Homo sapiens: one gene and its partners. The protein of the gene in region 1 interacts with the protein of each later gene in a pairwise test. Each region holds a gene or a part of one and is shown in the gene's direction. Other genes may lie near its edges. The genes, in order: TRIM69, FAM110A, HMOX2 and KRT17.

Region 1 (8,163 bases):
ATTGTTTTGTGCATTTGTCTTTTATATTGAATAGGGGAAAAAGAGGAGTTAGAAACCAAAAACTGCAATATTGGACTTTACCTATGTAGCTACTTTTTCACTGGTCTCTACTTCTTTATATGGCTTGGAGATACTTCCTAGTTTCCTTTCATTTCAACATGTAGGACTCCTTTTAGCATTTCTTCTAGAGCAGATCTACTAGCATTTTTTGTAGATTAAGACTACTAGACAACTCCTTCAGTTTTTGTTTATCTGGGAATGTCTTAATTCCTCTTTTCATGAATATATAATTCTTTATTTTTAAAAAATTTTAATTAAAAAAAAGTAGAAACAGGGTCTTGCCATGTTGTTCCTGGGCTCAAATGATCTGCCCACCTTGGCCTCCCAAAGTGTTGGGATTACAGGTGTGAGCTACTGTGCCTGGCTGGATACAGAACTCTTAGTTAACAGTTTTTTTCTTTCGGCAGTTCAGATATGTCATCTCTCTCCTTCTTGGCTTTCATATTTTCTGAAAAGAAATCAGCTAGTAATCTTACTGAGAATCCCTTGTATGTGAAGAGTCATTTCTCTCTTGCTGCTTTCAAGATTCCTTCCTTGTCATTGGACACTTCAATTATAATGTGTCTCATTGTGGATCTCTTTGAATTTATCCTGCTTGGAGTTTGTTGAGCTTCTTGGATGTAAAATTTCATCATATTTTGGAAGTTTTCAGCCATTACTTTTTCAAAAATTTTTTTTTTTGAGACAGAGTTTCACTCTTGTTGCCCAAGCTGGGGTGCAGTGGAGTGATCTCAGCTTACTATAACCTCCACCTCCCAGGTCAAGCAATTCTCCTGTCTCAACCTCCCAAGTAGCAGGGATTACCAGTGCCTGCCGCCATGACCAGCTAATTTTTTGTATTTTTAGTAGAGACAGGGTTTCACCATGTTGGCCAGGCTGGTCTCTAACTCCTGACCTCAGGTGGTCCACCTGCCTCGGCACCCCAAAGTATTGGGATTACAGGCTTGAGCCGCAGTGCCCGGCTGCTTCAAACATTCTTTCTGCATTTTTCTCCTTTCTTTCTGAAATTCTTATTATGTCTGTTTGATAGTGTCTTGTGGATCTCTTAGGCTCAGTTCATTGTTGGTCATTCCTTTTTTTTTTTTTTTTTCTGAGATGGAGTGTCATTGTTGTTGCCCAGGCTAGAGTGCAATGGCGTGGTCTTGGCTTACTGCAACCTCTGCCTCCTGGGTTCAAGCAATTCTTCTGCCTCAGCCTCCCAAGTAGCTAGGATTACAGGCGCCTGCCACCACACCCAGCTAATTTTTGTATTTTTAGTAGAGATTTTTAGTAGAGATGGCTAACCATCCTGTGTTAGCCAGGATGGTCTAAATCTCCTGACCTCGTGATCTGCCCGCCTTGGCCTCCCAAAATGCTGGGATTACAGGCATGAGCCACTGCGCCTGGCCTGAAATGTGTTTTTTTAAAAAGGAGTGAAGGGGACCCTGGATGGTTGACGATATCACACTACTGACTAAGGAATCTGATTGATTTTCCAATTCTTTGTATATAATTTCTAGAAAACAAAAATAAAATAAAGGTAATAACTAGTAGAGCAGAAGTTGAAAAATAAAACTTTCAAAAGACACTTGGGGAAAGTGGGTAAAGAGAGAGATGTACAACAAAGTACATTTCTTTGATTTAGTACTGTTTCTTCCTCTGCCTTGATTCTTTATTAAAGTTTAAATAGCATCATACGCTATAATTTCAGAAAACACTCAAGTTACTGGTTCACTTTCAAAGGAGAGATTATGTGCTTTTACTTTAGTTGTACCAATTTTCAGCTCCTTTAGGAATGGCGCCATCATCCTGGAGTGTTAAAATGGGCAACAAGAAAGATAAACTCATTTTAGCTGTTCTTTTCTAAAGGTATCCACCAACCCCTCCTCCAACATCGATCCAGGCGACTATGTTGAAATGAATGATTCAATCACCCACCTACCCTCTAAAGTGGTGATACAAGATATTACTATGGAGCTACACTGCCCTCTGTGCAATGATTGGTTCCGAGACCCACTGATGCTAAGCTGTGGCCACAACTTCTGTGAAGCCTGTATCCAAGACTTTTGGAGGCTGCAAGCAAAGGAAACATTCTGTCCTGAGTGTAAGATGCTATGTCAGTATAACAACTGTACATTCAACCCTGTACTGGACAAGTTGGTAGAGAAGATTAAGAAGTTACCCTTACTCAAGGGCCATCCACAGTGCCCAGAGCATGGAGAGAACCTGAAACTGTTCAGTAAACCAGATGGGAAACTGATCTGCTTTCAATGCAAGGATGCTCGGTTGTCTGTGGGGCAGTCTAAGGAGTTCCTGCAAATCTCTGATGCTGTCCATTTCTTCACGGTGGGTGAGCCCTGGGCCTTGAACAATCCCTTAGAAAAACTAGGAAAAATATTTCATAGGGCTTCTTCTTTCTTCCAACCCCATCCCTTTATTCAAATGATGATTAGAAAGCCCAGACTGCTCAGAAAGTACAACGTATCTTGCAAAGTTCTTTTTCTAGAGTTGCTGCTTATAGGAAAGGAACAGTGGAGGAGCCCTGGCTTACTCCCTCAATCAAATCTGTACCTAAACTCTGCCATGGTAGCACTCTGCTAAACACTGTGTAGAATATGGATAGATAAGATATTGCTCTTGTTATAAAAAATTCAAAATTTGGTTAAGTTTAAAATGAAGAAAACAACAGAAGCAATATTAAGATAGCCTCGTGTTAAAAGTTAAATTTTGTCACATTTGTAATTCTTAAGGGTTTAGAATTTCTGAGACTATTAGAGAAAAATGAAATAGGGGACATATAGTGAAAGAAAGGGAAAGGACTTGAACTGGGAAATCATTTGGATTTTGAAGGGCAGAAGGAAGAAACAAATGTTCCAAGTGAGAACAACACAAGTAAAATGATAGATGCTGAGAACAGTATATAACTAGAGTGGAAAATGTGTAGAGTTCTATTCCCTTCTTCAAATCCCTGTAGCTAGCTACTAAGAGAGAAAAACTAAGTTTTAAGCTGTAATTTACTCCATAATTCTTTTTTTTTCTTTGTTTTGAGATGGGTCTCACTATGTTGCCCAGGCTGGTCTCAAACTCCTGGGCCCAAGTGATCCTCCCATCTCAGTCTCCCAAAGTGCTGAGATTACAGATGTGAGCTGCCACACCCGGCCTTTTCTTTTCTTTTTCACAATTCTTGAACGAGACAAGAACTATGATACAGGGGAAGGGGAAGATTTTTGCAGCAAGAGCTTGCTTTTTTCTTGCACACTGGGGCCTTGGGGAAGATGTCCTTTATGGTCCTTCATCTCCCGAGTTAGTCTGGGTTAATTCTATTTGATATTCCCAGGAGGAGCTTGCCATCCAACAGGGTCAACTGGAGACAACTCTGAAGGAGCTTCAGACCCTGAGGAACATGCAGAAGGAAGCTATTGCTGCTCACAAGGTGAGGAGCAAGAAAGAGGGGTTATGAGATAGAACTGGAACACACCCTCCATGTAACTTCAGCTATGGGTACAAAGGTGCCTAACATATATTATCTACACACTAAATGGTACCTAGGCTATGGAATTGGAAAACTGAGTCTGTAGGGTGGAAAGGAATATGGTGGTGGAGTAGGTTCCTAATAGCTGATCAACAGAGCAGATTAACCTTTCCCCTAATATGCTGATCTTTTCGATAGTTCAGTCACCAGGTGACTGTCGTGGCGTTGAAATGTGTCTGGTCTTTGGCTTTATCTATGGCAAAAAAAAAAAAGGAACTTATTAGAAAAAAATCAATCACTAAAGATTGCTATGTCCAAAGAAATACCTTTATTTCCTTTGAGTTTATAACCAGACACCTCTGGACTAGGTCTCTAAGGTCATAGGCTTTTCCCAGCTGATTTGATCTTCTTAGCTTCCTCCAAGCTAAATAAAGCTATTGTCTGCACTTTCAACTTCATAGGCACTCTAGGACAACATTAATGGCTAGAGCTTTGGCAAATCAGTCCCTAGATTGGGGGTGCTAAATTGGAAGTTCTGTTTCTTTATTCATTATTCTATGGAGAAGAGCCTTCTCAGGTATTTGGCATCTGGAAGAAAAAAATATGCAGACTCAGGGAAAGAAGAAGGATATATGGAAGTAATGATGTCTTCAGAAAATCTTGTTCCTTTTGTAAAAGTTCCTATTAGTGTGAGCATTCATTCATTCATTTAACAAATATTTATTGAGTGGGTCAGGCATAATACTAGATATTGGGGATGGGAGACAGCTGTTAATTAAATAATCCCATGAGTAATAATAAAATAACAACTGTGATAAGTACTATAACTGAAAGTATAGGGTATGATGATAGCATATAAATGGAGAACATAATCTAGACTGGGGGAGGGGTGTTCTCTGAAGAAGTCACATTAAAAATTGAGAATTGAAGGATAAGTAACTTATCCAAGTGAACTGGGTGAGTGGGGATATGAAGGAGGTAGCCTGGAGAAGAATGTTCTAGGAATAGAAAAGAGTATCTGGAAAAGTCCTGAGATGGAAAGTTAGCTGCTATGTTAAACAGAGAAAAGGCCAATAAAGCTGGAACATGCTAAGCAAGATGATATTGATGAGGTGGATATGGGCTCACTGTAACCTCATACTCTTGGGCTCAAGAGATCTTCCCACCTCAGCCTCCTGAGTATCTGGGACTAGTTTGCCACACATGGCTAATTATTTTATTTTTGGAGAGACTGGGTCTCACTATGTTGCCCAGTCTTGAACTCCTGTTCCAAGCAATCCTCCCAGCTTGGCCTCTATAAGTGTTGGAATTACAGGTATGAGCCACTGTGCCCAGCCAAGACTATCTTAAGGTGCAATAATAATTATGGACCATGGGATCCAAGCTAGATAAGAGAGGACATGAAGGTAGAAGTTCCTGAATAGAAATGGAGGGATCGGTGAATAGGAGGTTTCAATGAGATCCAATAATTGTTGCAATAGGAGTATCTGAGTGAGCCTGGTGCATAAAAAGTTATTTTGGAGATGATACAATTGCTGGGGGTGATAAAATCCTAGGTGAGACTATAGGAATGAATCAATAAATGTGGAAATCACTAGAAATGAGGAGAATGAGGAACTGAGAAGCCAGGATGTCAAATAGTTTAACTGTGAGGATGTTGAGGTAACCCAAGGAAAAAGCTGCAAGTGTAACAGTGGCATTCCCCCAGTTCTGATTTCTAGGTAAGGACAGTTCTTCCAGCCTCCCAATACCCCCAGTCTAACAGTACCACTTGGCAGCTTTTGGATTACCAATCTAGGAGGGTATTATCTTTCATTCTAGAATGTTTGACTAACTCCACAGTCTTATTTAATATGGCATTGGTTACCATCTCAGTACTGCAATAGGAAACTGGAGGTCACTTTTGCCTATTTCATCCTGAACTATTAAATTAGTTGGAAAAGGAGTAAGTCTCCCAAAGGACTCATTTTAGTATGACTGAATTTGATATTCAGTAGCCATTTGTATGCATTTTTCTGTGATGGTATTTACCAAGTGTGTGAGTGTTGGTGGTGTGGGCCCCCATCCCCAAGCACTAGTCTCTGCAATAACCATGGTGATAATCATGGAGGTTTCCAGGAAAACAAGCTACATCTGCAGCAACATGTGTCCATGGAGTTTCTAAAGCTGCATCAGTTCCTGCACAGCAAAGAAAAGGACATTTTAACTGAGCTCCGGGAAGAGGGGAAAGCCTTGAATGAGGAGATGGAGTTGAATCTGAGCCAGCTTCAGGAGCAATGTCTCTTAGCCAAGGATATGTTGGTGAGCATTCAGGCAAAGACGGAACAACAGAACTCCTTCGACTTTCTCAAAGTGAGAATCCACACCAATATGATTATGGGTACCTTCCTACCTAGAGGGGGGAAGAGGTTTGGAAAGAATGCGGAAGTGGCTTTTCACATCCAGGGAAAACAAAACAAAACAAAACAAAACTGTTATAGTGCTTTTAAGATTCTCTGGAAGAAAAGGAGGAGGCTGCTTCAGCTATACGCACAGCAGAAAGCTTTACTTTCATCCTCTTAGGAAATACGATTTTTAAATTCCATTAATAATAGTATATAGTAATGGTTTAATATTTTTCCATAAAGAGCTTGATGCTTTATTTCTCAAAAATAAAAATGTTGCAGCCTGAGTTGTATCTTTGGCTCTCAGCAATCATAAGCTGACCTGTCTGAAAAGCTGTTTTCTAACCTTTGCTTTCTTAAGCTTCACCTCTAAAGAAGCGTTGGTTACCATCTCAGCACTCAGAAGTTTAATTAGCTAGAGTAAGGAAAAGTGGCCTTGGGACTGGGATACCTAATGTGTTTTTCTTCTGAGACTATTTGAAAGTATAGGTAAAGATAGCTTAACCTTAAGTATTGTCTTATTGGCTTCTGTCTTGCTCCCTGTAGAAGAGAACTCTAGAAAGAGCAAAAGATCAATTTAACCTGGGTTAGGATCAGGGATGAAGATTAGAAAAAGTGTATGAAGGATGAAAGAAGTTGGTAGAGATGAGTTCGGGACCATCTGCACAAATTCTGGTGGTGGCTGGTATCACCAAAGAAATTTTGAGAGTTGATGAACGGGCATCTGATGTCTCTCTTTCTCCTTTCTTCTAGGACATCACAACTCTCTTACATAGGTAAGTGTTTCCCTATGGTACTATTAATATCATTCCTTGAGTCTCTGGAGGATGTCTAAGGATAAATGATTTATGTGCCCTGCAGCTTGGAGCAAGGAATGAAGGTGCTGGCAACCAGAGAGCTTATTTCCAGAAAGCTGAACCTGGGCCAGTACAAAGGTCCTATCCAGTACATGGTATGGAGGGAAATGCAGGACACTCTCTGCCCAGGTATCAGTGGGTAGTAACTATTGGTTCTTGAGGCTCCTAATCTACGTTTAATCTGTGGGACTTCTTCTGTGGCCCTAATTAAGTTTTTACAGTCTGGGATAGGGAAGGGGTACAGTTTGGCCAAAAGGAGGCTAGTTGGTATGACTGAATTTCTTCTAGTACCATGACCTAAGAATTTATGACTTTGTGCTGGTAAATAGATATGAGTTTGATATCAGGATTACTTCTTAGCATATGATTTTGACTGATTTATGAAATGTGGCAACAGCCAAAATTTTATCTTGTTTTGCTAAATCAGCTATATGAATCCCAGGGGCTTCTCTGAAGAAGGAGGAGGTTTCTGAACATACTCTTTTTATGTACACTGGGTCTTTACAGTTTCTTTTGTGCTTGATGTTCATAGCGTAGAACATTTTAGAAGATTGTTTAGATCTTCAGTGCTTCAGAAGAAAACCAATAATTTAAATAAACATACCTAAGAAGGACACTAAGTTTTTGTGTTCCTGTAGATACCAAAGGACTGAGCAAGATAAAATAACACACATGGCATTTCAAGAACATCAAATAAAGTTCTAAATAAAAATCTTTATAGAAATAAAATTCTAAATAGAGTTTTTATAGAATTCATAGACTCATCATTATTATTATTGTTTATGGTTATTGATTTAATGAGAAATCACAAATATATCCCTGATTTAATGAAAAATCGCAAATTTTTCCAGGTAATTGACATTGAAGAAAAATCAACTATACTGAGATATAGTTAACATAGAGTAAAATTATCCAATTTTAAGGGCACAATTTGATGAGTTCTGATGTATATATACACTTAGGTAAACCTCTCCATAATCAAAATATAGAAGATTTTTATCACTCCAAAAAGTTCCTACATGCCCCTTTGAAATCAATCTCTTCCTTCTACTCTCAGCCTCTAACATTCACTGACATGTTTTATTTCACTTTAAATGTGTCTTTTCTAAATTTTTGTCTAAGTGATAGCATACATTATGTAGTGTTTTGTGTCTTCTGGTTTTTTTCACTTAGCATAATTTTTTTTTTTTTTGAGATGGAGTCTCGCTCTGTTGCCCAGGCTGGAGTGCAGTGGTGCCATCTCTGCTCACTGCAAGCTCTGCCTCCAGGGTTCATGCCATTCTCCTGCCTCAGCCTCCCGAGTAGCTGGGACTACAGGCGCCTGCCACCATGCCCGGCTAATTTTTTTATATTTTCAGTAGAGACGGGGTTTCACCCTGTTAGCCAGGATGGTCTCGATCTCCTGACCTCG
Region 2 (4,226 bases), on another chromosome or scaffold:
CCCATCCACTCCATCTCTCCTGCCTTGGGAGCAGCACCCAAGGATCTATTCCCAACTCATGGCTGCTGCAGAGGTCTCCAGCTGGTGGTTGGGGGCCAGATGGAGGAGGAGGGGACAGATATGTTCGCAGACATATTTTGTTTGCTGTATATGCAATGTTTTAATCATTATTATCGAATATGCTGACAGTTAAGAATCTAGAGTTTTTATGTACTCCTGGATTTCCAGCTTCCTGGAACAATACACCTACCACCTTGGACCCATATGCCTGCAGCAGGCAGGGTACCTAGATGTCTAGTTCATCCCTGATCACCCAGTTCACATCTGGCTCCCATAAATATTTCAGTTCAATAAATTTTTATTGAATATTCTGCCCTAGTATGTGTCTAGGGCAGTATCTTGAAACTGGGGTATAGTGAACAAAATAGCCAACCCCCGCCCCTACACACACACGCCTGCCCTCATGGAGCTGATATTTTAGGGGGATAGAGACAACAAAGAGTAAAACAACCATACACAAATAGAGTACTTGTGCAGGGGATAAGGAGAAAAGGAATAGTGCCGGGAGGGGGTCAGGAGTGCCGGGGAGAAACAGGACGTGGTATTGAGATCAGTGCCTTATTTATCTATTCTGGGACCTGGGAAAGCCACTTCTCTGAGTCTCAGTTTCTCCATCTGCACAACGACCCACAGGCTTGTGGGAGGTTATAGGGAGGATGGCACCCAGCAGAGATCCCTGCCTCCCCACCCCAATCCAGACTCACTCCCTTCTGGATTTTTGGATGTCTAGGTGGGGCTGTCCAATGTAGCTTCCTACCATGGATGGAAATGCTGTACTCTGTGCTGCCAAACACAGTGGCAACTGGCCACATGTGGCTATTGAGAACTTGAAATGCCACTAGTGTAGCTCAGGAACTGAATTTTATGTTTTTATTTCATTTAAATTTAAAGTTAAGGTTGAATAGCCACATGTGGCTGCTGGCTATTGAGCTGGACAGCACGGGTCTAGATGGCTTGAACTGTAAGCCTTCTTGGGGAACACCCAGATTAAGTACCCGCCCCCTCCATTTTACAGATGAGAATGTTTGGGACTTGGTATGTGGGTTTTCTTCTGTCCCATCTCCAAGGGGCCTTGTGGGGTGACTCTGTGGGCTTGGCCCTTCCTTGGAAACAGGGTCAGGGTTGGCTTGATGTCTGGGGCATCAGGTCCTGACACTTGGGTGACCACGTAGACACTTGTGCATCCAGGTGTATGCCCTCCTCCCAGGTGAGTACCCATTCCATGGCTGCAGGCAGATCGAGGGTCTGCCGGATGCCTCCATGCAGGGCTGTGTGATTTTGGACATTTCCAGCTTCTCTCAGCACAGCATAGCTCAGGGCTGATGTTTCCACGTGACAGGCATTTGTGGATCACCGTGGGCCATCCAGTTCCATGCAGGAAGCTGACGGATGTCTGGACTCCACTGGGGCGCGGGTGGAGATTTTCTTTGCTCCTTCCCTATAAGCTCTGCCCTTTGCCTGGGGCCTGGCATGTCTAGGCGGGTGGATGGCACAGGGCAGCTTCCTGCCTGGATGGGTGAGGGGTAGAGGTGGTACCAGGCTCCCTGTGGGGAGTCCAGGTGGGGTGTGGGGCTGGAGCCCTTTTTCTTGGTCATTTAACCCTACGCCCCGGTGCCAGCACCTTCCTTTTTGGTGGTCAGGGGCAGAGCCACCTACTCGCTGGGTTAACTTAAGCAAGTTGTTTGCCTCTCTGGGCTTCAGTTTCTCCATCCAAAAAACGGGGCTGTTGAGAGGACCTGAGGTTGAGTTGACTGGTGCGTAGCACAGAGCCTGGAGCCTCCCTTGCTCCCTTTAGCGCGTGCCTTGCCCTGTCTTTTCTGCTCAGGTTGCCCAGGTCGCCCAGGTCTTTTTTCTCTAGCACCTTTTTTCCTCTCTTGGTCTCAGCTGGGCCTGGTTCTCCCGGGGCAGGAGGGAGGGGGTGTGGGTGGGGCCTGAGGCCCCGCAGCTGCTGCCTTGTGCCTGCTGATTGGCTCCTTGTGGAGGGGCGTGGTCTCTACCTTATAATAGGGAGGGCGTCTTATCCTCTCAGCCGCGGCTGAGCCTCTTTGTCTGAGCGCGCTCGGCTTTTTTTTTTTTTTCTCTCTCCTTCCCTGCAGCAGTGGCCGGTGTCCAGCTGCCTACTTTCTGCCCGGATCTCTGGCTCCTCATCTCTCCGGTCTCCGCAGACTAAAGCCCTCGGGATATGCAGCAGCCATGCCTGTGCACACGCTGAGCCCCGGAGCCCCGTCCGCCCCCGCCCTACCTTGCCGCCTGCGGACCAGGGTCCCTGGCTACCTGCTACGGGGGCCGGCAGATGGTGGAGCCCGGAAACCGAGCGCTGTGGAGCGCCTGGAGGCCGACAAGGCCAAGTACGTCAAGAGCCTGCACGTGGCCAACACCCGCCAGGAGCCTGTGCAGCCCCTGCTGTCCAAACAGCCGCTCTTTAGCCCTGAGACTCGCCGCACAGTGCTCACGCCCAGCCGCCGAGCCCTGCCTGGCCCCTGCCGACGGCCCCAGCTGGACCTGGACATCCTCAGCAGCCTCATCGACTTGTGTGACAGCCCCGTGTCCCCTGCCGAGGCCAGCCGCACTCCTGGACGGGCCGAGGGAGCCGGCCGTCCTCCCCCAGCCACCCCTCCGCGACCGCCGCCCAGTACCTCTGCGGTCCGCCGGGTGGACGTCCGCCCCCTGCCCGCCTCGCCTGCCCGGCCCTGCCCATCACCCGGCCCTGCCGCCGCCTCCAGCCCAGCCCGGCCGCCGGGTTTGCAACGCTCCAAGTCGGACTTGAGCGAGCGCTTTTCTAGGGCAGCCGCTGATCTCGAGCGCTTTTTTAACTTCTGCGGCCTGGACCCGGAGGAGGCGAGAGGGTTGGGTGTGGCCCACCTGGCACGGGCCAGCTCGGATATCGTGTCCCTGGCAGGGCCCAGTGCTGGGCCGGGCAGCTCTGAAGGGGGCTGCTCCCGCCGCAGCTCGGTGACTGTTGAGGAGCGGGCCCGGGAGCGCGTTCCCTATGGCGTGTCGGTGGTGGAGCGCAATGCCCGCGTGATCAAGTGGTTGTATGGGCTAAGGCAGGCTCGGGAGAGCCCAGCAGCTGAAGGCTAGGCGCCACTGGGCCTGGAATTCGCCACAGGACGGATCTTACAGAGGCAAGTGGTCCCTGGACCTCTCTTGCATCCATTCTCTAGACGGCCGTGTCAGAGGCTCCACCCTGTTGTGAACTTGGTATGGAGGCAAAGGCTTAGAGGCTGGACCAGCATTGTTGGGCAAGGACTGACTCTCCAAGGGTTTTGTTCTTGGCTTTGGACACCTGAGAACCCCCTCCTCCCCTCCCCCAATACAAGGTTTTTGACATGAGTGTACTCCTGCTTAGTTCCTCTTGTGGGGCTGCATTTGCGGTGCTTTGCCCTCCCCACTGTGAGTGAGGGGCCAAGGGATCTCCTCAATCCTGTCTCCCCAGCGGCTCTGTTTCCTCCTTCCTTCCTTGGCCTCTGTCCTTTGCTGACTTCCTCTTCCTTACCCAGCAGAACTCACCCTGGGGTCGGGGCAGTGGGGAGGGGCCTATCCACTGCTCTTCCTAGTCCTTGGCAGCTGGCCTAGGTGGGCAGACTATAGGAGGGACTGGTTAGGAGTCTGCATTGCTTTGACTTCCCTCTCCTTGGTTAATAAACACAAATGCTTGTTTCTCAAGGGCTGGGCCTTCAGACTCTTCTGTGTTCACAAGAGAAAGGGTGAGAGAAGTCTTGGGGTGGGGCCATCAAAACAGTAATTGTTCACCCCGAGGTCTAGTGGTGGGGCATGATGATAGCGGCTGGCCTGGCTGGAGACATGTCCCCGTGGTGGGTTCTCATAACTCTCCTGGAAGGCTAGCAGGCCTGCCTCATCGAGGAGGAAACTGAGATCCAGCCATGAGTGAGCTGGAATAGAGCTGGGAGTAGGAATGGGGTCTTTCCCCTGCACCAGAAAGGGAGCCTGCAGGGGAAAGGCCGATGGGGTGCATAGACTCTCCCCAACCAGGAGTGTTCCATCCAAGCCCTGCCCAGTTCCCAAGGGGGCAGGAAGCTCGGAGAGGGCAAATCCTGAACTTGAGGTCACACAGACCATAGAGTGAGGATGAGAAGTGGGAGTTTTGGAGGAAGAGAGACTTGGGGTGGACGGCACAAAATGAGTGGCCTCCCTGGCGATCTTGG
Region 3 (8,163 bases), on another chromosome or scaffold:
AGATCTGAAGAGAAGTCAAAACAGATTTCATACAGTTAATTTAGAGACATGGGACCCAATTAAAAATTTGTATTACTTTACTTGGTATTTTAGAATTTAGCTGTTATTTTCTTGTTACACACACAGGCACAGGCACACAAATCCTCTATTTAACTGGCTTTCTCAGTAGGAACTCCATCTGTGTATTTGCAACAGCTGTAACTCAGGTTGGATGCTCCCCAGGGTGCTGGCCTATAAGTCATATTGGACCCTGATCTGAATCTGAGGGAATCTGGATCTCTCTTGTAGGAAGCTTTTGGTTTAACTGGGAAGACAGGATGACAGTCAGTTGTGGAAGCTGAAGCGTAATCACCTCATATTAATATGGTGGCAATTTTATATCGGAGTGAGCTCTGAGCTGCAAACAGCCTTCTAGGAAGCAGGCAGGGGACCCCCATCCAGGGTGATGGTAAGAATCCTGATGCCCAACTGCAAGGTGTTCAGCAGGGAGGGAGCACTCGTGGAGTCCCAGTGCAGAAGTCTCTGAGCAGCCACTTAGCCTCCCTGTGTTTGTGGGGTAACAACCCGAGTTCATGTTGTGGGCATCTCATGCAGTGTAGTAGCTGGTCACTGTCAAGTGTCACTATTTCATTGAGTCAGAAGCCTGCAGAATTGTTCTCATTCCAGGGAGTGAGTCAGTCTGCTGTTGCTTACTCTCGGTGCTGGCTGAGCTCAGCAACCTGCTCTCTTCCTTCAGTTCAGGTTTCTCCAGGGCAAAGAAGTCTTTATTGTTCCTTTCTGTATGACCAGATGGGAAATGAATTATAATATAGTCCTTAGATTATATTCCCACCTGGTAGCAATGCACTGAGTTACCTGACCTGAAATTTGTTGGACTTAGTCTCCATGGAGGAGGATTTACCATCTTCGTTGTCTCAGAAGTCCTGGTAGTGCCTCATGCCAGCAATTTAGCAGGAGCAAAAGCTTTGAGACAGTGTTCTGGATCTGCTGAGCTGGTCTAAAGGAACCTCTTTTGCTTGAAGTAACTGTGATAGGAACTTTGTTACTGCTTCTGTTAGCTCAGGTGTTGGAATGAGAATCAGCAGCTGATGAGGTGAACAGCTAGGAGTACTGGAATTATGGAGTAGTGGAGGTAGATTTTATAAACAGAGGGTCCCAGTTTTTTGGAAATGGGAAAGAGAGAGGGTAGACTGGCCTTTCTAGAATTTGTAACAGAAAAGAGGACCCAGGAGCTTCCATTGACTAGTTAGTTAATGCAGTGCGGGATCTTAGCTGGTTTGCTTGGTCCAATTCCTGTCTCTCGGTTTCTTTTTTCCCTTCCCTTCGCTGCCTTCCCCTCCCTCTTCCCTTTTTCTTTCCAAGAGAATTGAGTCACTCCATATAAAAGAAGCAGCCAGTTGGCTAAAAAGTCCAACAAAAAACAAGTATTTATAGCTCTCCAAATTTCCCACTTGTCATTATCAGTATACTTTTGCACACAGTTATAGTCGGTGTTTGGGATCCTTTTTAAAAAAATAAAAAGTTTCTGTAGGCTTTTCCATGCATGAACACAGCTTATCAACTTGCCCCGGCTGTGCCAGGATTCCATTGTTGACTGTTGTTTGAGCAGTCATGCCCTTTGTTCTTAGGCTGTGTGTTGTTTTTTTCCTAACATCATAGTATGGCTGGGTATTATTTTGATACAGATTACAATTACTATTACTATTTCTTGAAGTGTATTTCCCAGAGTGGAATATTTTAGGATCTTTTTTTCTCTTTTGTGGGGGTGGGGAACATGTAGCTTCTTGTGGATATTAGACATTGAAGTCTAAAAAGGTTCTATATTTATGATTTGGCCCTCAATTTTCTAGAGATTCCAATGGTTCCTGCAAAGAAAAGAGCATTCAAGTATAGAAACCAGCCAGACTAAGTCTGGACATGTAGCTTTTCAGAAAGTGAAAAAAAATTATGTTTCTGCAGTTGCAAGGTGGCCTCTGAATGCCACACTGTGTGGCCACTCCCTTGGACAGTGGCTAGGCCACAGGGTCGCCTCCCCTGGCCCCAGTCTGTGGGTTGAATATGCTAACCGAGCCTTCCCAGGAGCCTCCTCTGCCCCCAGCCCCCAGGTCTGTACAGATGGTAGTTGGTACTTTCAGCCCGCCTTGAGAACTCAGTATTCTTCCTGTTAGCTTTCCTTCAAAGTAAAATCGGTAGAACCTATTTTGAGTGTAGAAAATTTGAAGTCGTGGACAGCAGATTACAAAAAATTGCCCACCACCATGCCTGGCTCATTTTTGTATTTCTAGTAGAGATGGGCTTTCACCATGTTGGCCAGGCTGGTCTCGAACTGCTGACCTCAGGTGATCTGCCCACCTCGGCCTCCCTAAATGCTGGGATTATAGGTGCGAACCACTGTGCCTGGCTCCTTTTTGTATTTTTCGGAGAAGCACAAGGACTTGTTGTTTAATTAAGCAAGACTATACTCTCCCAGAGCATGCAGTTATTATTGAGTAAAACACAGTTAATGAGATTTAATCACGTTCCCTATCACTGTTGTGCAGCATGATAAGTAGGTGCAAATGGCAAGAAGCACGCTGAAGTTACTGCAGTTGGTAACCTGGGCCATGGATGGCACTTGTCTTTGCCTCATTTTGCCTGTAAGAAGCATGGGGCCTGTGGTCCTGGGGTACCTGGACCCTCAGCCTGGTGTGTGTGTGCCCTCAGCCTGGTCCTTTACTTCCATCACCCATCTAGAGGCTCCAGGACCCTTTACTGCACCCCTCCCTCCTCTAGATAGCTCAGTGTTTTCATCCCAGCACCTTTTTCTCTGCTGCCTGAGAACTGAGCAGCCAGAGACAAATTTTGGCTCTCAGGGTCCTCAAGGGTGTACAGCAAAGCTGTTCTTATTATTTAAAGTATTTTATTTATTTATTTTTGAGACAGAGTCTTACTTTGTCGGCCAGGCTGGAGTGCAGTGGCATGATCTCGACTCACTGCAACCTCTGTCTCCCAGGCTCAAGAAATCCTCCTACATCAGCCTCCCAAGTAGCTGGGATTACAGGCTGGAGTGCAGTGGCTCCATCTCGGCTCACTGCAACCTCCGCCTCCCAGGTTCAAGCGATTCTCCTGCCTCAGCCTCCTGAGTAGCTGGGATTACAGGTGTGTGCCACCATGCCTGGCTAATTTTTGTATTTTTAGTAGAGACAGGGTTTTACCATGTTGGCCAGGCCGGTCTCGGACTCCTGACCTCCTGATCTGCCCACCTCGGCCTCCCAAAGTGTTGGGATTACAGGCGTGAGCCACCGCGCCCGGCTAGCAAAGCTGTACTTTTACCAAAAAAAAAAAAGAAAACATTTATAAATCAAGGTCTGAAGGCCCATGTGAGGCTTATTCTACAGCTTGCAATGCCTGTTTTTGCCCCTTGGTAAGTGGACGCACAGCTGGGCAGCCTTATGCTATCTCTGTGAACTACCCATTTCTGGCTTTGTTCATAATATTCCCTTGATCTGGAGGCCCTCCCCCAGCCCTGCCCCAAATCCTGTCTGTGTTGAGGGTCCTGCCCCAGGAAGCCCTCTGCATACTCTTCCCTGCATGTAATACCTGCCTGCTTTCACATTCTTCTAGACTGTGCTGTGCATCGTACAGTTCATCAGCATTATTGCAGAGTAGAGTGTCTCTGATTTGGAGTCAAGAGAAGGTTCCATTTTTCTGTACATCCCGATGTTTATTTTCTGAGTGTTCTCAGACATCACTAAGCCTCAGTCAAAATAAAGTATGATCATGATGTAACATTCATTGAGTGCTTATCACATGGTAGGCATTGTGCTATATGAGTTATTGCTTGACTTCCTAAAATAATCCCAGTAGAGATGCTAAATCTAAAGGTGAGAGAGATGGTTCAAAAAGACCTCAGTGAGCAAACCATGTACTATAATATCCTAAAAGATAACAAAAATGTAACTAGGTATCTAGAGAAAACTCAGGAAGGATATGTGCCTTGGGCCTTTTAAGGACCATTTCTTAACACTTCTGTGTTCTTCTTGACACCTGTTTCTGGGTAGAGCACATAGAAAATGCTCAGTAAATAAGTTCTTTTTCCTTGGCCCAGTTTGGCCTGATTTGGCCCCAGTTCTGTCTTTGTGAGTTACTTTATTAGTTGTCGGTGCTACTGTGCTGCTATTCATGTGGAAGATTCCCCAAATGGGCTGCGCCTTACATTGCCTGAGCAGAAGCCCCGAGGGATGGAGGATGAGCTTGCCTTGTTATGGGACTGTGTTTCCCTGGCTGACAAAGGCTCAGCATTTGCAGCAGGCAATGGGAATTGATTGGCCAACTTAATATTTCCTTCAGCCTAGCAAAGTCCTGAGTAGGCTAGGGACAGTCTGCTTTTTTGGTAACTCCTGTAGGCTGCCTTCTGCACAAGGCACCCAGCCTCTCACAGGTAGGATGAACTGGCCTCAGCACGCTTGCAGAGGGGTGGAACTGTGCGTTGCTTGCCAAGCTTTTTGTTTCCCTAAGGTTTTTGAGGTTTTCTTTGTTTTTGGTAACTTTCAATTTTTTTTTTTTTTTTTTTTTTTTGGACAGAGTTTCACTCTTATTGCCCAGGCTGGAGTGCAGTGGCGCGATCTTGGCTCACTGCAACTTCTGCTTCGTAGGTTCAAGTGATTCTCCTGCCTCAGCCTCCTGAGTAGCTGGGATTACAGGCACGCGCCACCACATCCGGCTAATTTTGCATTTTTAGTAGAAACAGGGTTTCTCCATGTTGGTCAGGCTGGTCTTAAACTCCTAACCTCAGGTGATCCACCCACCTTGGCCTCCCAAAGTGGTGGGATTACAGGCATGAGCCACCGTGTCTGGCCTAACTTTTAATTTTGATACGGTCTTTTTTTTTTTTTTTTTTTTTTTTTTAAGACAGTTTCGCTCTTGTTGCCCAGGCTGGAGTGCAACGGCGTGATCTCGGCTCACTGCAACCTCTGCCTCCTGGGCTCAAGAGATTCTCCTGCCTGAGCCTCCCGAGTAGCTGGGATTACAAGTGTGCACCACCATGCCCGGCTATTTTTTGTATTTTTAGTAGAGACAGGGTTTCACCATGTTAACCAGGCTAGTCTCAAACTCCAGTCTGCCTCGGCCTCCCAAAGTGCTGGGATTACAGGCATGAGCCACTGTGCCCTGCCTTGATACAGTTTTAAGCATACAGAAAAATGGTAAGAATAGTACAAAGAACTCTCATACCTCTTCCCCAGATTCACTGCTAGGATTTTGCCTTGTTTGCTTTTCTGACTTGCCAGTGTCCCCCACCCTGCAGCATATGCACATGCACACACACTGTCTTCTGAACCATCTGACAGGGAGTTGCAGGCAGTGTACCTTTACTTCTGAATACCCCAGTGTGTATTTCTTAGGAACAAAGACATTCTCTTATATAATCGCAGTACAATTATTTTTAAAAACCAGCAAGCTTAATGTCAATACAATGCTATTACCTAATACATTGTTCATATTCAGATTTTTTCCATATTCCACTATGGTCCCAGTAATGGCAGAGCTTTATTTTAAAGAAAACAATCCTGGGGTGTGTGGGTGTCACCTTGGTTACATTCGCTCTGAGGAAAGCAGAACCGACAGGTATTTGGGGAAGTGACTGCCGTGGGTGCCACATCACCAGCTCCTTGTGTCTCTGCAGGACCAGAGGAGCGAGAGCAGCAAGAACCACACCCAGCAGCAATGTCAGCGGAAGTGGAAACCTCAGAGGGGGTAGACGAGTCAGAAAAAAAGAACTCTGGGGCCCTAGAAAAGGAGAACCAAATGAGGTGAGCGATGGGGGCTGGCTGCACTGAATCAGGTGGGCCCAGCACCTGTCGTGCTCAGCACACCTGGTTTTGTCTGTTGGCAGCACTGGGGAGTGGCCATGGGCCATGAGCTCTGGACCCCTGGGTGCCTGCTTGGCCCTGCAGGGACCGCATACAGCTTCGGCTGCTTAGAACTCTCCCCACTGGTCCATTGTCTCATCCAAGGAGGCAGGGCAGGTGCTCCTGGGAGTGCTGATAGGATTTGATGGTAGTTATCCTTTTTTCTTTTTAAAAACTTGTGCGTTTCCTCATCTGGGCTGAGAAAGGGTAAACGCAGGCAAAGCTGGCTCTGTTCAGTCTTTTACCACATAAAAGACTGCAGGGCAGCCTTTCCTTACTCTGTATAGGGACAGCTCATGCTAAACCTGAGCTTCCAGGCCCTGTTCTGCATCATTAGCCTCTCATAGCCCTGTCATTGGCCAAGTTTTTTTTTTATCCCTTGAAATAATTGCTAATAATAAATTGATTCTCAGCACATGGATGATAACGAGCTAATCTCCTAAAGAAGACAGCAGAAGCCAGACCATGATAAGGCCAAATTTTTCTCACTCTTGTAGATGGATTGTGTGGACACATGTAAGCCCCTGCCCAAGTACCACCATCTTTAGGATCACATGTTTTCTACCTTGTCCATCCATCCACACACCTTTACAACTGTGTAATTTCGTTAAGCAGCACAAACCCAGCGTCCTGGCCCTAGCCTCTCGGTTGTCTCCTTTGCATCCTTCCGTGCTTGGTCCTAGTCACATATAGTCTCAAAGAAGCTGTGGGTCCAAGGTGGGAGGAAGGCAGTAGGGCCATCTGAGGAGACCCATGGTCACAGCCTTACTGAGGTGTGTGAATTCCAGAAGACACGTTCCAAGGCAGGCTGTTCTTAGAGAAGCCAGCAAATACTGAAGGGAATACAGATGTGTGTCTCTTCGACCACTAGGTGGCCACAGAAGCAAAGCATTGCTCATTTGGGTGGTTCCCAACACAGACACATGGACGTGGGTACTACTCTCAAGGAGCAGGCCACAGTTATCCCTTGTGTCCTGAGTCCTTGGAGCAGAATGTCATGTCTGCTTGTCCTGTGTTCCCTGACAAGTTGCTGCTATTTGTGTTGGAGTGAAGTGTCTGAGAAGCCCCAGCCTCCAGTACAACAGGTGGTCACCTTGGGGTGTGGACTCAATCTTCTCTCTATGGTCCTTTCTGGAAAGCTGGGAAGGGCTAATTGACACACAAACACCTCCCATCTCTCCACAGAATGGCTGACCTCTCGGAGCTCCTGAAGGAAGGGACCAAGGAAGCACACGACCGGGCAGAAAACACCCAGTTTGTCAAGGACTTCTTGAAAGGCAACATTAAGAAGGAGCTGTTTAAGGTTTGTGCCCCGCATTGGGTTCCAGACTGTCATATGGGGTTGGGGTGGGGGCCTTGGTCCCATGAGAAAAGTGCCCCTGGAGCCACTCTGAGGGAAAAGCTGGGCTTTTCTCCACACTCCATTCCTTCTTGACGTTAAGCTCTGGCTCTCGGCTGGGTACAGTGGCTCATGTCTGTAATCCCAGCACTTTGGGAGGCCGAGGCAGGTGGATCACTTGAGGCCAGGAGTTTGAGACCAGCCTGGCCAACATGGTGAAACCCTGTCTCTACTAAGAATACAAAAATTAGCCGGGTGTGGTGGCGCGTGCCTGTACTCCCAGCTACTTGGGAGGCTGAGGTGGGAGAGTCACTTGAACCTGGGAGGCGGAGGTTACAGTGAGCCGAGATCGTCCCACTGTACTCCAGCCTGGGTGACAGAGCGAGACTCTTTACCCCGCCAAAAAAAAAAAAAATTGGTTCTCATGGCTTAGATAGAATAACATAGTGGTGTGAAGGAAGCAAAAGTATGCGTGTTCCAAAGACTTCACCATGCCATTCCTTTAAGAAACAAAAGCTTCCTTGTGTGTTAAATAATTCACTACATAAAAATGGACCATAGGATTGGGTCTTTGGGGTTGGGGGTTGTCACTTGAGCCTCTGCATCCAGCTGCTCGGATGTGGTGTGCTCAGGCATAGCTGGCCTCCTCCTGTCACCTCCACAGCTGGCCACCACGGCACTTTACTTCACATACTCAGCCCTCGAGGAGGAAATGGAGCGCAACAAGGACCATCCAGCCTTTGCCCCTTTGTACTTCCCCATGGAGCTGCACCGGAAGGAGGCGCTGACCAAGGACATGGAGTATTTCTTTGGTGAAAACTGGGAGGAGCAGGTGCAGTGCCCCAAGGCTGCCCAGAAGTACGTGGAGCGGATCCACTACATAGGGCAGAACGAGCCGGAGCTACTGGTGGCCCATGCATACACCCGCTACATGGG
Region 4 (8,048 bases), on another chromosome or scaffold:
GGGTTGCTTTCTGCATGCCTGTGCTGTGGGCTTGGTGGTGGGGGCAAGGCAGTGGTGGGGGCAAGGTCAGGGCAGTGAGTGAGGTCGCCCGTGGTCATCCTCCACCGTGCTGGGGGGTTGTCATCTCTCGGGGCTTAGCACTTGTTGGGGATGGGTGAATTCCAGTCCCGCGTCACGGTGTGTGTTGGGGGAGGTTGCTAATATTCACAGCCCTGTATGTTTGAGAAATGACAACATCCACCTCCACCTTCAGGGTGAGGAGCTGTTGGCCTATCTGTGTCTGTCTGTCTGTCATCTGTACCTGTCTCTCCGAGGGAAAGAAGGCAGGCCCCAGGGTCTTTCTCCAGGATGGCCTTGGGTGAGCTTCTGCTGTCCTCTCTGCCCAGGAAATGAACGTCCTTTGAGGTCAGGTGGATGAGGATGTCAGTGTGAAGATGGACACTGTGCCTGGAGTGAACCTGAGCTGCATCCTGAATGAGATGCGTGACCAGGACAAGACATTGGTGGAGAAGAGCTGCAAGGATGCCGAGGGCTGGTTCTTCAGCATGGTGGGTGGCCGTGCGTAAGCAGGTGTGTACACGTGTGGGCACATGTGCTGCATGCTGGTGCAGCTGGAGCACTGGCAGATCCACAGGCTGTCCCAGTTGGAAGGACTTTTGGAAACCAGTTGGACCAGCCCCTCATGTTTTAGATGTAAAACGTGAGGCTCAGAGAGGACTCAAGCTCACACAGCCCTTCACTGTGGCCTGCAAAATAGATCCAGGTCTCTACAAGTCTGGTCTTGGGTTTCCACCACAGCTGTTTACAGGATGTGCGTATTTGAATACATATGTATACCCTTGGCAAGCACAGGCTGAGTATCTCCGGTATCCTAGGGACAGCAACAGGCGCAAAAGAATAACACCCAGTGCCTGTCTTTGAGGTGCTGCAGTTCAGTAGGAAAAAGAAATGCAAATGACCGCAGAGCAGGCTGAATTCCTCCAAGTTCCAATGTGGGTGCAGAGGCTCTCTGTGTGCAGGTGCCTTTGGGGCCCCATAGAGGCCAGGGAGGGGCTAGGGGATGGTTCTGGGAGGTGAGGGTTCAGGAGCAGCCCTTTCCTGTGCCCCGCTTCTGAAAGTCTCCATAAACCCCTGTGGCCCACTCTGCCTTCCAGAAAGAGGGGCTGAACTGCGAGGTGGCCACCAACACAGAGGCCCTGCAGAGTGGCTGGATAGAGATATGGAGCTCTACGTCTCTGTGCAGAACCTGAGCCGTCCCAGCTCAGCAAGGTAGGGTCTCTGTCCCCTCCCCACCCTGTACCTGTCACCCCAGGGTGAGCCCAGCCTTGTAGACCCCTGCTTGGGGAACCAGAGTCCCCACCCAGCCTGTCCCTTCACACTCAGTGGCTGGGTGCACTACCACCTCATTGTGCTGGCAGCACCCACAGCCCCATACAGGAGGGGCTCCTCTCTAGTGCTCTGCCATGGGGAAGGGTCCCAGGTCCAGCTCATCACACCACCTATCTCTTGGCCCACAGAAAGCATCGCTGGAGGGCAGCCTGGTGGAGATGGAGGTGTGTTACAGGACCCTGCCGGCCCAGCTGCAGGGGCTTAACAGAAGCATGGAGCAGCAGCTGTGCGAGCTCTGCTGCGACACGGAGCACCAGGACCACAAGCACAGGTCCTTCTGGACGTGAAGACGTGGCTGGAGCAGGAGATCGCCACCTACCGCCGCTTGCTGGAGGTTGAGGACGCCCAGTGAGTGTGTACCAGGGTGCCTGTTGGGGTGGGCTGGGGGCCCGCTTCACCCAGGGAGAAGTTGGTGTCTGAGCACCAGCGAAATTCAGGAGGTGTGAATGTCGGAACCTGTTGGGGTTTGCAGGAGGTGATACTGACGATGCAGGCTGGAGTCTGGCTGAGGAGCCTTGAATGCCAAGTTAAAGCGTCTGGACTAGATCACGTAGGCAATGGGGAGCCATGGAGGGATTTGGAGCAGGAGAGTGAAATGAACATCAAGAGATTTTAGAACATTCACTCTGGCTGCAGAGGGAGAAATGGATCAGAGGGGTCAGGGCGGGGCCAGAGAGATGTGTCAGGGGGCTGGAGCAGGGAGTCTGGCCAGAGAAGTCCCGTGCGGTGGTGGGTAGTGGGGCAGGGGAAGGAAGGTGGTGCACGCAGAAGAGAGGTTATAGCTCAAAACAGCGGGACTGGATGCCTGGATCTCGGGGTAAGCATGGCTCACAGTCAGGACTCAGTAAGTGTCGGGAGAACACATGAAGGAGCAGGCATTGATGGCCCTGGGTTTCTGGTTCTGATGACTGTGTGAGTGGTGAAGAGCAAGGTGGGTGGTGGTTGGGTTTGCAGTTGGGAAGGGTGATCAGGCCTTCAGCTGAGAGTGTCCCGGAGTCTCCATGCTTAGTCACACGTTGCAGCTTTTTGCTCCCCGGAAATGGTGAAGTCCATCTATAGTCTAACAACAGTCTCTCCTGCTTTAATTGGGTCTATTTGTTGGGCCCTCTGGGTTATGGAAAAACCACTTGCTCAGCTTCTCCTTGTAAATTCCTGGTGAGTAGCCACAGAGTGCCGCCAGACCTACTGCTGTGCTGTTTCTTTTTCTTCTTCCTGCTGTGCTGAACCCCTGCCCTTTCATTCTTGGGCCTGCGCTAATTTCTGTGCATTCCCAACTGTGATTTTTCACCAATTTAGGGGAACCTCCTCTGCCAGGGCCTACTTCTCCCCAGCAGTGCTTGCAGGTGCCTGGGCTGGCTGGCATCCCTGGGCTGATGGGTGCTTCTCTCCCTGCAGGCTGGCCACTCAGTACTCCTTGTCCCTGGCCTCGCAGCCCACCCGGGAAGGTAAGAAGCTGCCCTGTCCTGCGGTGTGGACCCCAAGGCAGGGGAGAGGCTGAGGACCCTTCTGTGTGGGAGACTGGGGGGACCACAGACGCGGGGGCAGGCGGGGGGAAGAGCTCCTGCCTGATGTTCCCTGTGCCTCCCTCCTCCATCGCCTGCAGCCACAGTGACCAGCCACCAGGTGTGCCATCGTGGAGGAAGTCCAGGTTGGAGAGGTGGTCTTCTTCTGTGAGCAGGTCCACTTCTCCACCCACTGAGACCCCTTTCTGTCTGCGACAGCCCCACCTCGAGGGCCACGGCACAGCCATCAGCTCCAGCTCCCAGCATGCTACTGCCACGCCCCGAGTGTCCGTCTGGGCCCCGGTGCATGGCCTGTTGTCTTTCTGTATCTACTTTCTGCAGCCCCTCACTGAGGAGGCCTCCTGGGTTTGTCCAGTGCCTACTATTAAAGCTTTGCTCCAAGTTCAATGCCTCGTGTGATCTGATCTGCTCATTGGTTTGGGGCAGTGTGGGCTGAGGGACTGGGGGAGGTGGAGTTTATTGAGTGTTTGGGTATGGGCTTGTCACCTGCCAATCTGTTCTGCCCACTCCATCCAGGCCTGGGGCTCCTGGAAAGATGAGAGGGGAGGAGGCGGAAAGATTAAGGGTGGAGGGATGGGACAGCCCCTTGTATTGGGAAAAGTTTCTAAGAATCAGCCCCTGAGTCCCTGTCACCTGTGGCTGGTCCCTGGGAGGGCCACACAGACTTTCCAAGGATGGTGCCTGTTGGGGAGCACTCCCTGCCTCAGCCCAGGGCGGGTTCAAGAGCAGAAGGAGAGGGGCTTGGTGGGGAGGGGCTTCTGAAGGAGTGGTCCATGGCATTGATGAGTGAGAGGGCATGGCAGTGACGCAGCCAGCCCAGGAAACCAGACCGGCTCTGCCCCAGCTCGGGGTGTGTGTGGGGCGGGGTGGCCGCTGTGCGTGTACGCGTAGGGGGCATCCTGTTTGCTTTGGTGGCTTGGCAGCCACTGGGCTATTGAGGAATGTCTCTCGGCTGCTGGCGGGGCCGTCTGGGCCTGTCTGGGAAGTGGAAGCCATCGGCAGTCTGAAACATGACCACATTCCACCCAGCGGGCCTGGCGGGACCCTGGGACCCAGGGCCGGGCTTGGGGTGGTGGGCAGGGCAGGGTGGGGCTGTGGGGTGGGGCACATGGCCCACCTGAGGAGCCACATCTTGGGGAGCCTGGAGTGGGAAGGGGGCTGGCTGGGGTCTCTGTAAGAGCCTCTTCTTGGGCAATGTCCTTTAGGTTTCCTGTGGGCTGAGACCTGAGATAAATACCCGTCACCTGACCCTGAGGTCTCTTGGGGTACAGAAGGGTGAGGGGAGTGGAAGGGGGCATCCCCCTCTCAGTTGGCACAGCCCACCATTTCCCCATCCTATAGCTGAGCCCCTGTTTGCCCACCCCAGCCTGGAGTGTAAACCTGGGGAAAGGTTTACACGAAGAGACTGGGTTAGCAAGGATTTCTAGGGATGGGGCAGGGTCAGAAGCTGACTGGATGGAACTGTAGCCCCTAGAGTGCATTCCTGGGTGTCAGGCTCTGCAGAAGGGGCCAGTGTGGACACGGCACCCCTCTGGAGCCCCAATTTCTTTATCTGTGATGTGGGTTGGTCTCCGAGGCTTGATGGCATTTCTATGCTGTGAGGTGGGCCTGGTGGGTTTGGGCTCAGTTTCCAAGGCAGGATAGGCTCTCGGTCTCCTCTTTCTCTTCAGCACCCAGCCCCGGGGCCAGCACCGTGGGTGGAGCAGTGTGGGGTGAAAGACAGCAACTTTGGCGGGGGGGTCAGCTGACACTGCAACCCATTTCCCCACCAGACAGGGTTGAGGCGGGCCAGGCTGGGGTGGTGGCTGCCTGGGAGGGCCTGGGGACGGTGACGTCCTGCCTTCTCCTCTTCTCCGTATTAGGTCATGGGAAAGCATAGCTGGAGGGCCCGCCTGAATCACAGGTGACGGGCCTGAGACCAGAGGCACGCACACGCACGGCACTCAGCACGAGGATTTGGAGAAATGAGGCAAATTCCTGATGATGGGCGGGGAGGGGGCCCCCAGCCACCTGGGAGCTGGCAGGTGGCCAGTGGTGATGAAAGCCCAGGGGAATGGAAACAGAGGAGCAAGCCTGTTGTAATCGCTACGCCCACTTGGTGGCCTATAAAGGAAGCGGGCGAACCCCGGCAGCCCTACACAACTTGGGGCCCCTCTCCTCTCCAGCCCTTCTCCTGTGTGCCTGCCTCCTGCCGCCGCCACCATGACCACCTCCATCCGCCAGTTCACCTCCTCCAGCTCCATCAAGGGCTCCTCCGGCCTGGGGGGCGGCTCGTCCCGCACCTCCTGCCGGCTGTCTGGCGGCCTGGGTGCCGGCTCCTGCAGGCTGGGATCTGCTGGCGGCCTGGGCAGCACCCTCGGGGGTAGCAGCTACTCCAGCTGCTACAGCTTTGGCTCTGGTGGTGGCTATGGCAGCAGCTTTGGGGGTGTTGATGGGCTGCTGGCTGGAGGTGAGAAGGCCACCATGCAGAACCTCAATGACCGCCTGGCCTCCTACCTGGACAAGGTGCGTGCCCTGGAGGAGGCCAACACTGAGCTGGAGGTGAAGATCCGTGACTGGTACCAGAGGCAGGCCCCGGGGCCCGCCCGTGACTACAGCCAGTACTACAGGACAATTGAGGAGCTGCAGAACAAGGTAGGGCCTGCTGGTGGGAGGGGTCTCCGGGGGGCATGACTTCTTCCCCCCAACTCCTGCCTTGGCCAAAGGCCTGGAGTCCAGCCATAGGGTCTCAGGGAGCCAAGGGTGGTTTGGCTGTGGCTTAGCTTCTGGGAACCTGCCTTGGGGCCCCTGTGTGGCTCACATCCCCCTTTTCTGGGGACAGCAAGCTGAGTCAGGAACAAAGAGGCCTTGTGGAGCCCCTTGGAGCCTCAGTTTCTCCCTCGTGGAGCTCCGCCACCTGGAGAGGTTGTAGGATGAGGCAGGAGGATGCAGATGGAGGGCTGGGCCCGTGGGCTGCTGGATGTGTGGTGTCTTGCTCCTTTGGAGCAGGGGTCAACAGGAGGGGGTTTTGGGTGATGTGGAGTGGGGGTGTCTGAGTGAGCTCCTGATAGCACCTGCTGCAGGAGGAGGCAGAAAGGAGGGGGCGGGACCTCAGTGTGGGGAAGGCCTCTGATGTGCCTTATTTGGGGATTTTTCTGGCTTCTCCTTTCCTCCTGCTGTCCCTTAAGACGGGCTCAGCAAACCCCAGGGGGCGGGGCTGCTGGCTGGCGCCCAGGGTTAGGGATTAGGAGGGGTCCTGACTTTTGATTTGGAACCACTCTTTAATGAGGGCTCCTTTAGCCTCCTTTTGGGGGAGCCTGTCAGGGGCACCCTCTAGCTGACTGTAAAACGAGGGGGTTGCCCACATCCCCTCCCTTGTTCTAGAATTCTGGGACAGCTTCTGCCCTGGGGACATTTTCCCATTCTTTTCTGGTTGCCTCATACTCCCAGCCAGCTGTCTCTTCTCCTTTAAGGCCGAGCCTGCCATGGGGGTCTGGTGGGGTACTGAGTATCGGGGGAAGAAGAGGCACCTTTCAGCCCTTCAGACTCCTGTTTGCCCCTCCTCTGCCAATAATACAGCACGGGGCAAGGGAGGGGCTGGGCGAGAAGAGAGGCCCTGAGGCAGGAAGATCTGCTCAGAACCCTGGTGTGGGCTCAGCCACCCCCATCCAATGACCTGACTACTCTCCCTTCTCCTCAGATCCTCACAGCCACCGTGGACAATGCCAACATCCTGCTACAGATTGACAATGCCCGTCTGGCTGCTGATGACTTCCGCACCAAGTGAGTCCTAGCTGTGGCCTTGGGCAGCCTGGGCCAGCTGGCGGAGGATCTCAGGGTACCCCTCCTGACCCCAGGATTCCTTGGTTGCTTGTGGCAAGGCCCAGGAGCTCAGGGTGGGGCAGTCCTAGGAGCCCCACTCCTTAGTCCAGGATGCAGTGAAGGCAGCCAGTTCTGAAGGTTGCTGAGCTTAGGCAGGGAATAGAAGAGAAGGAGGGGAGGCGGGAGGCGGGAGGCAGAGAGAAGTAAGGAAGCTGGTGGGCGTGGGATCTGGCCCTGTGATGGTCCCGGGGTCCCGGGGCTGGAATTCGTTTCCACTCGACCCTCTCATCAGCCCTTCCAACTCCTTAGAGTCCTGGCAAAATGAAGGCAGGTGAGCAGCCAGGACCTGGATCTGCAGGTCCAAGCAGCCTGGGCTGAAGTCTCTGATTCCCACGGCAGGTTTGAGACAGAGCAGGCCCTGCGCCTGAGTGTGGAGGCCGACATCAATGGCCTGCGCAGGGTGCTGGATGAGCTGACCCTGGCCAGAGCCGACCTGGAGATGCAGATTGAGAACCTCAAGGAGGAGCTGGCCTACCTGAAGAAGAACCACGAGGAGGTGAGGTGGCTGGGGCAGAAGGTCAAAGATGCTGAGGAGTGGGTGGCAGAGCCCTGGGGCTGGGCAATGGCTGAGGCCGTGGGAGAGAGCAGAGCAGGTGCACCGGGATTAGTCACCTTAGAGGGCTTCCCTGTCTGCAGAGCCCTGATCCTTGGGGTCCAGTGTGCAGGGCAGACTCCTCTTTGTACCACACTGCTTCTCTGTACACAAGGAACCTCCCAGGGGCCTGCAGAGGCTCCCTCTACCTACCCTGCCTCCCTCATGAGGGTGGGGGATAAGTAAGGAAATCTTGTCCCATTTCAAACTCTCAAAGCTGAACATCTACATAGAAGCTTGGAAATTAGAGGGGAACTTTTGGGGGCATAGGCCTAATAATTAGATTTTATTTTGGAGAGTCCTTGGTCTAATGGGGGAGATAGAGTCTGATGGTGGAGGCAATACTGAGCAGATGAATAAAAATCATTTAGAGGGTCAGATAGAGCAGAGGGAGAACAAAGGAGGGGTCCTTGTGGGAAGTGGGGTCCCCTTGTGGGGGAAGGCTTGGGAGTGAGAGGTCAGGATGGGTCCAGATGCGCACATCCACATCCCCTTTTTCCATAGGAGATGAACGCCCTGCGAGGCCAGGTGGGTGGTGAGATCAATGTGGAGATGGACGCTGCCCCAGGCGTGGACCTGAGCCGCATCCTCAACGAGATGCGTGACCAGTATGAGAAGATGGCAGAGAAGAACCGCAAGGATGCCGAGGATTGGTTCTTCAGCAAGGTGGGGGGTGCTGCAGG

The links.
Region 2: the proteins of TRIM69 (region 1) and FAM110A interact in binary tests that used the Homo sapiens proteins (3 or more experiments, as listed by UniProt).
Region 3: the proteins of TRIM69 (region 1) and HMOX2 interact in binary tests that used the Homo sapiens proteins (3 or more experiments, as listed by UniProt).
Region 4: the proteins of TRIM69 (region 1) and KRT17 interact in binary tests that used the Homo sapiens proteins (3 or more experiments, as listed by UniProt).

What each region holds. Positions count from the first base shown.
Region 1 is NC_000015.10:44,752,992-44,761,154, forward strand, and holds part of TRIM69 (E3 ubiquitin-protein ligase TRIM69), read left to right. Parts: intron 1-1,908; coding exon 1,909-2,385; intron 2,386-3,376; coding exon 3,377-3,472; intron 3,473-5,621; exon of another isoform or gene 5,622-5,629; coding exon 5,630-5,863; intron 5,864-6,648; coding exon 6,649-6,671; intron 6,672-6,756; coding exon 6,757-6,881; intron 6,882-8,163.
Region 2 is NC_000020.11:842,552-846,777, forward strand, and holds the end of FAM110A (protein FAM110A), read left to right. Parts: intron 1-2,091; exon of another isoform or gene 2,092-2,156; 5' UTR 2,157-2,253; coding exon 2,254-3,141; 3' UTR 3,142-3,726; downstream 3,727-4,226.
Region 3 is NC_000016.10:4,499,822-4,507,984, forward strand, and holds part of HMOX2 (heme oxygenase 2), read left to right. Parts: intron 1-2,922; exon of another isoform or gene 2,923-3,138; intron 3,139-5,662; coding exon of another isoform or gene 5,663-5,703; coding exon 5,704-5,789; intron 5,790-7,073; coding exon 7,074-7,191; intron 7,192-7,891; coding exon 7,892-8,163.
Region 4 is NC_000017.11:41,621,576-41,629,623, reverse strand, and holds the start of KRT17 (keratin, type I cytoskeletal 17), read left to right. Parts: upstream 1-5,048; 5' UTR 5,049-5,114; coding exon 5,115-5,546; intron 5,547-6,591; coding exon 6,592-6,674; intron 6,675-7,112; coding exon 7,113-7,269; intron 7,270-7,869; coding exon 7,870-8,031; intron 8,032-8,048. UniProt on the Homo sapiens protein: Type I keratin involved in the formation and maintenance of various skin appendages, specifically in determining shape and orientation of hair. Required for the correct growth of hair follicles, in particular for the persistence of the anagen (growth) state.